2 linked regions of the Homo sapiens genome follow. The protein of the gene in region 1 interacts with the protein of each later gene in a pairwise test. Each region holds a gene or a part of one and is shown on either strand. Other genes may lie near its edges.

The links. The genes of interacting proteins can lie anywhere in the genome.
Region 2: the proteins of ATP2C1 (region 1) and GTF2IRD1 interact in a two-hybrid assay, tested with the Homo sapiens proteins (one large-scale study listed by BioGRID).

What each region holds. Positions count from the first base shown.
Region 1 is NC_000003.12:130,974,084-130,977,583, reverse strand, and holds part of ATP2C1 (calcium-transporting ATPase type 2C member 1), read right to left. Parts: intron 2,253-3,500; coding exon 2,096-2,252; intron 1-2,095. UniProt on the Homo sapiens protein: ATP-driven pump that supplies the Golgi apparatus with Ca(2+) and Mn(2+) ions, both essential cofactors for processing and trafficking of newly synthesized proteins in the secretory pathway.
Region 2 is NC_000007.14:74,460,406-74,463,905, forward strand, and holds part of GTF2IRD1 (general transcription factor II-I repeat domain-containing protein 1), read left to right. Parts: intron 1-3,500. UniProt on the Homo sapiens protein: May be a transcription regulator involved in cell-cycle progression and skeletal muscle differentiation. May repress GTF2I transcriptional functions, by preventing its nuclear residency, or by inhibiting its transcriptional activation.

The DNA of each region.
Region 1 (3,500 bases):
TTGTTCCAGAAACTAACAAAAAGAGGGAGCATATATTAGACCTTCAAGACCTCTTTAAGTCCTCTAAATCCATGCCACTTTAAAACCTCTTGCTATGTGCTGCTAAGAGTAGCAAGACTCTGCCCACTTCCCTACCTTTTTTTCTCCACTCTTTTAATGCTTTATTAATAGCTGGAAACAAAGCCAACAAACTGGAAGTGATGACATCCCAGAAGTTCAAAAGAGGAAAGAAATGGGTTCACATTTTGTTCACCAACGGTCTTTTTAAAAAATAAATAAGTGCAACTTAGCAAAAGTAAATTTAAAAAGAAAGGGTCAAAGCCCCAGAATCAGGTGAATCAGGGGAGTAACAGGCCCTCTGCACCACAGTCTTCCCAGGATTGTCTCAGTGGAGCTGCCACTGCCCCTTCCGACACAGGCTTTATCAATCCAAACCCTAATTTTGTGGCAGCAAGGCCTCCCTGCAGTGCCCCTTAAGTCTCTGAAACTCCCACTTGCTCTAACGATTATAATCCTGGGTCAAGCCTTAACTGTCATTCTCTTTCCCTAGCTGAGGTGGAAAGTTGAGGAGTGTAAGGGGAACAAAAGTGTTACCCTGAGCCAGAGTATCTGAGCTTCCAAACAGTTTGGTCTGCCAACTGTTCAGAAGGGAGTGACGGTACAATGTACGAGGGCACCCCCTGTGCTCAATTATCCAGAGTGTCAGTTGGCAATTGTACATTTGGCTTGATAAAAACACATCAAAACCCTGTGGTTTCAGAGATCCTGCTATTCTTAGGTCTGGCCCAGGTAAACCAGAAAAGAGATTCCTCCTGCCCCAGAAATGACGCTGGGAGAAAGAATCTGCCTTGGCTTCAGGGGTCCAGAAAGCTTGAGGACTGAGGTGGGGGGATCCAGGGCATGTTCCAGATTCAGGCCTTTGGGATGAAACCCCAGAAACTCTAGAACCTGTCATCAAAGCCTCTTACATTAAAAGGGGAAAGGGGGAAGGAAAAGTTGTTTTCCTTTAAATTTTTTTCCATCCAAAATATCCATTTGCAAAATAACTTCTCAGCCATGAGTCTCTGCCTCCCATTTCCTTGGAGACAGGGGATGAAGTGTTAAGATGGTCACAATACAGCCCATATCCCAGATGAGATGCACCAGGCTCTGGGGGCAGGGGTATGAGGAGTGATCTTGGTTCAGCAGCACAGAAGGTTCAGAGAGAAGGGCAATGGCAGCAGGCTGGGAGCAATGTTCTCTGCTGGTAAGAGTACCTTTCCAAACTTAGTTTATTTTAAGAACAGAAGCCCTATAAATCCATCAAAATGTTTAAAACTCAAAAAAAGCCTTTGCTTAAGTGAACAACAAATAAAAACATTTTTCACATAACTTGTTTTTCTTCCTCCCAGAAATTGTAGTGCTTAGACTCCTATTTCATTAAAATAATAAAATTAAGGAAGCCAACTCTTCCAACTGCTGTGAGAGACTACATAACTACATATATTCTGCAGAAGCCAGATGACTATCCAGAAGGTAAGAATCAGGTTAGGACACCAACCACCAACCCCCGAGTCTTACACATGACATCCCTAGGAGAGGTGGCCTAATGTGTGTGTGTCCAGCAGACCCTCTCCCCATCACTGCTCAGTCAGCAGCATATAAGTAAGCAGAATCTGGGGACTTCTTTACCTCCCTGGTGAACAGTAACAGATCAAGTTAGCAATCACCTTAAAGGATATATTAGAGGCTTCAGACTCAATTTTTAGAAAAGTATTTTTGTCTTTAAAACAAAGTGATAAAAAGAGAGTAACACCATTTTACCTCGATCCATTTCCCTTCTCATAAGATAAACTTGTTTAAAATAAAATTTCTATCAGCTACTCAGAGACCTCTGGAGATCTAAAAGAACCAGTGATTCATATTTTGCTACATTCTCAAATTTCCATCTTTTGAGGGCCAATTAACCAACTAAAACTTAACACCTCAATACTGGCAAGGGTTCTACAAATCCTGGAAGTGAGTTGGACAGCTCAAATGTGAAGCATGAATTCATCTGCAATTAAAAGAAGGCTCTACCTTTCCACCCCAGGGGACTATGCTGAAATAGCCTTACCTCTGAGTCCCGCTGAGCCCATGCGTGCCTTCTCTTGTTGGTACACATCTCTCTGCTGCTGAGTAAGTGTCAAGGTCTGCCCTTTGCTCTGGTATGTAGTACAGTACTTAATTACTTGTTCGTAAGCACCTTTCATAAAACAAATCTCTGGTCTGTCCTAAGAAGAAAATGTACCAAACACAAGTTTAATTTCAACTTGTACTTACCTGCCATTGGAGTCCAAAATTAAGTGGCATTCATTTCTCATAATTCCCAGAGAAGTTACTCAAGCCTAAGGTTTTGACTGCCACCTGAACTCTGAAGATTAAATATTCCTATAGGGGAGCTTTCTGTATCTTCTATAGAAAACATCTATCCCACCATCCCACACATAAAAGGCAATGCTATACTAAGCCCCAAATTTGGCACTCTGAAATGTGGAAAGAGGCTCACTGCAACATAACAGGAAATGGAAGAGAAATAACAGCTCACAATGGTTCAAGTTCTCTATTAGCTACTATATACGTCTATATCTATCTACCTAAAACACCATTTAATTCTCCCAATCACACTGTATTTATGGGTATTATCGCACTTTTTCTTTTATTTTTTGTCATGGTAAATAATCTTCAAAAGCTTATAATGAAATACTGCAGTTTCCTGTTCAACGCTTCTCACCACTAGTCCTACTCCATGGAAGCAAAATAATTTTAACTCTCTTAGCTGTTTTCTCTGATATTTACCCTCATGTTTTTAACATGTTTATACTGCTACTCCATCAGTTATCAATTTTATACACTGTCTATTGTGACAGATGTTAATTTCCCCATTTCCACTATCTATTCCCCCCCTCCCCATCTTTATGATATAGCTAAAGCAAAATCTGCCAGTATTTTGTTTACAACAAGACTCTTTGCTGCTAAGCCAAGTGTGGTAATGACTATAGCAGTTCACAAATATCCCAGTTCTCCTGGGAGGCAGGAATGTATTTCCCTATTGCCGTCCTCACTCCACAACGGTCAGGTATGACTTGCTTTGGCCAATAAACATGAGTACTTGTGTCACTTCCAAATGGAAATGTAGGTGCCAGTGCACAATTTCCTATTCTTCTACCCCTGCTGTGACAGTGTGTGCTCACATTAAAATGGAGCTTCCATCTGCCTGCATTCCCAAGTAACTACAATGAGCAGATATTTGGGGACAGGGAGGCAGCAGGAGAGCATGATGTTGTTTTCATGGCCTATCCTGATTGATAGCTCAAATAGGATACTTCTTTTCCTGTTCAAGTTTTGTCTTTTATAAAGTTAATAACCACCTCTTTAATTTGTTTTCTGTATACCTATCATTCATTCTTCCTAAACTCTTCAATGTAATATAAAACCCTTCTCATGGTATTTTTTCACAACAACAAAGAAGCAGATAAGCT
Region 2 (3,500 bases), on another chromosome or scaffold:
ATTAAAAAAAAATTTTTTTTTTTTAGAGATGGGGTCTTGCGATGTTGCCCAGGCTGGTCTCAAGCTCCTGGCCTCAAGCGATCCTCCCACCTCAGCTTCCCAAAGTGCTGGGATTACAGGCAGTATCCTTCTAATGTCCTTGGTCGGGCCTCCTCCAGCCTGTGGCTCGAGGGTCTAGATCTCCTACTGGCCTGGGTGGCATGGAGGGTGTAGTCTAGGTGGCCTGAGGGGTGCCCAGGGATCCCCAGTTTGGGAAGTCCTTGTCTTCAGGGATTTCTGGCCAATGTGGTCCGTATATTTAGAGATGCTGGGAGGAGGGGGTGGGAAATTGCTGGAAACACCCTATTATACACCAAGTAAGATTTTCATGTAGGATTGGCAAGGCCTGAGTGCTGGGAAAGTGTCTGCAATGGCTACCTTTCAAAGCTGGGAGACCCCGCCACGGGGGCGGTTGTGGACTTGAGGGGCTGACCCCACAGCACGGAGGCTGCTGGGAATTCCTGCACCTTTGCCATGCTGCCACCTGAGGCAGGTTCCCAGCACCTGAGCTGCAGCCTCTGGAGTGGGGGAAATGGGGGGAAAGTAAGGGGCCGGGGTCATGGGGTCCACGTCCACCTTCCGCCCGCCTGGGCAGTTTTCTTGGATGTAAAAGGGAGATGGCTCTCCCCAACCTGCCTGGGTCCCAGTGTGGTGCTGTAGTCCAAGGGACTTGGTGTGACCCCGTGGGGATGCCACAGCATGGGTGTGTGGGACCCCCGGGGGCAGGTCTGTGGTGGAGACAGGGTGGGAGGGCCTGGCTTGAGGGCTTGCGGTCCTGGGCACTTGAGGATGCAGAAGAGGCTGCATGGTTGGGGAGGGTAGGTAAGCAGGGGGCAGCTTAGCCCTTTCCCCTCCTGTTCCCTGTGACAGAGGGGAGACCCTCCAGGCTGTTTGTGTCTTAGATGGTTGGCCGAGGGTAGGCCTCTTTGCTGGCTGGGGTCTAGCAGGGTCTCAAGGTGCATTTTCTGGCTACTGGCAGAACCACCATCAAAGCAAGTCCGTATCTTTTCGTCTATCCATCTGTTGTTACGCCAGCCAGTGAGGACCTTGCAGAGGCGTCAGGCCTGAGGGAGTCTCATTAGGTCCTGGTCCCCAGCCCCCGGCTGGCACATGAGAAGGGCCCACTTTATATTTTATTTTATTTATTTATTTAAGATGGAGTCTCACTCTGTCACCCAGGCTGGAGTGCAGTGGCGCGATCTCGGCTCGCTGCAACCTCTGCCTCCCGGGTTCAAGCAATTCTCTTGCCTCAGCCTCCTGAGTAGCTGGGATTATGGGTGCATGCCACCTCGCCCAGCCAATTTTTGTATTTTTAGTAGAGATGGGGTTTTGCCATCTTAGCCAGGCTGGTTTTGAACTCCTGATCTCAAGTGATCTGTCCACCTTGACTTCCCGGAGTGCTGGGATTACAGGCGTGAGCCACTGTGTCCGGCCCCACTTTATATTTTATTAAAAATATCGTTGAGGAGTGAAGGCTATGCTATACCAGGAACTTGCCTGGCTCACACCCTTATGTCGTCCAACCCCCGTCAAGACATAGAACAGCGCTTTGGGAGGCTGAGGCGGGAGGATGGCTTGAGGCCAGGAGTTTGAGACTAGCCTAGACAACATAGTGAAACCTCCATCTCTACAAGAAGTACAAAAATTAGCCAGGCGAGGTGGCTCATGCCTGTAGCCCCAGCTACTCAGGAGGCTGCGGCGGGAGGATCACTTGAGGCCAAGAATTTGAGACCAGCCTGGGCAACATAGCAAGACCCCGTCTCTTAAAAAAAAAATTAGCCGGGTGTGGTGATGTGTGCCTGTAGCCCCAGCTACTTGGGAGGCTAAGGCAGGAGGATTGCTTGACCCCAGGAGTTAGAACAATCCTGTAACCCCTAAAAGTTTTTGAAGCCCGTTTGTTCATCCTTGTCTCTTGTCCTGACCCCAGCAACCACTGATCTGTCTTCTGTATATGGTTTTCCATTTGTACAATGTCACATAAATGGAATCCTACAGTCCACAGCCTCTGAATCTGGCTTCACACAGCATAATGCATTTACGGCATTGCTGGGTACACGGGTAGCTGGTCCCTTCTGGTCCCTGAGTAGTGTTCCATGGTGTGGATATGCCACATACCTCTAGCCACTCTCCTCTCTAGGGAAATCTAGCAAACCGGCTTGGCCGGCCCTGCATCAGCTCGGGACCCCCCAGAAGAAGGTGGTTCCTCTTTCTCATTTTCACAAAGGCACCATCTGGCTGGCGGGGGGCCTGTGGCCTGCACCCCATCACTACCCACCCCCCACATCAAGAGCTGACCCCAAGCCGGGGGAGCTGCTCATCTCCGCCCTCAGAGCTGGAATTTCATCTTCTGTTTCTGGTGACTCATACTGTGAGCCCCGCGATGAAATTACACCTGCCTGCCGCTGCCCTCCGGGCCTCTGGCCCCATGCGATCCTCCCGCCGCCATCCAGGTGGGCTCTGGAGTAATTGAGGCTATGGGGCCAGGACAGCTGGAGGTTGAGGGCGGTGCCAGGGAGGGGAGCTGTCTGTGCCCTGGGGTGTCTTGCCCATCATCTTATGTATCCCCACCCTGTGGGAGTCTGGGGTTCCTGGTGGTGCGTCTCTGGTCTTCACTCCTGCAGCTGTTTTGCTTGGGGTAGAAGTTTCATGTTTGCCTGAAATAAGAGCAGGACTTCTGAGGGTAGGGAAGGAAGGTGGTGAAGCCACTGTTGCAGGCAGGAGCAGGAGTTAGGATCAAACGGAACAGGGCTGGCCGAGTGATGTCACATCTCTGGGCTTTGGTTTGTTCATCTGTTCTTATTATTATTTTGAGACAGGGTCTCGTTCTGTCACCCAGGCTGGAGTGCAGTGGTGCAATCATAGCTTGCTGCAGTCTTGAACTCCTAGGCTCAAGTGATTCTCCCACTTCAGCCTCCTAAGTAGCTGGGCTTGGAGGCACTTGCCACTACACCCAGCTAATTTTTTTATTTTGTAGAGATGGGGGTCTCGCCATGTCGCCCAGGCTGGTCTTGAACTCCTGTGTTCAAGTGATCCCACAACCTCAGCTTCCCAAGTGCTGGGATTAGAGGGGTGAGCCACTGCGTCCTGCCTGTTCATCTTTAAGTGGGAGAACAGAACACTAGGTTTGCAGGGCTGTGAGACTCAGCTGAGGGTAATGTGAGTGTGTGGATTACCACAGAGCCCTGGAGGGCCCCAGGGGCCACCAAGGAGCGGGTGGTGGGGACATGTGAGGCTCAAGCCTCCTGTGCCCCTTTGGGCCAGAGTAGGACCACTGTTGTTTTTTGTTTTTTTTTTTTTGAGACAGAGTCTCACTCTGTCGCCCAGGCTGGAGTGCAGTGGCGTGATCACGGCTCACTACAACCTCCGCCTCCCGGGTTCAGTTGATTCTCCTGCCTCAGCTTCTCGAGTAGCTGGGATCACAGGTGCGTGCCACCACACCCGACTAATTTTTGTATTTTTAG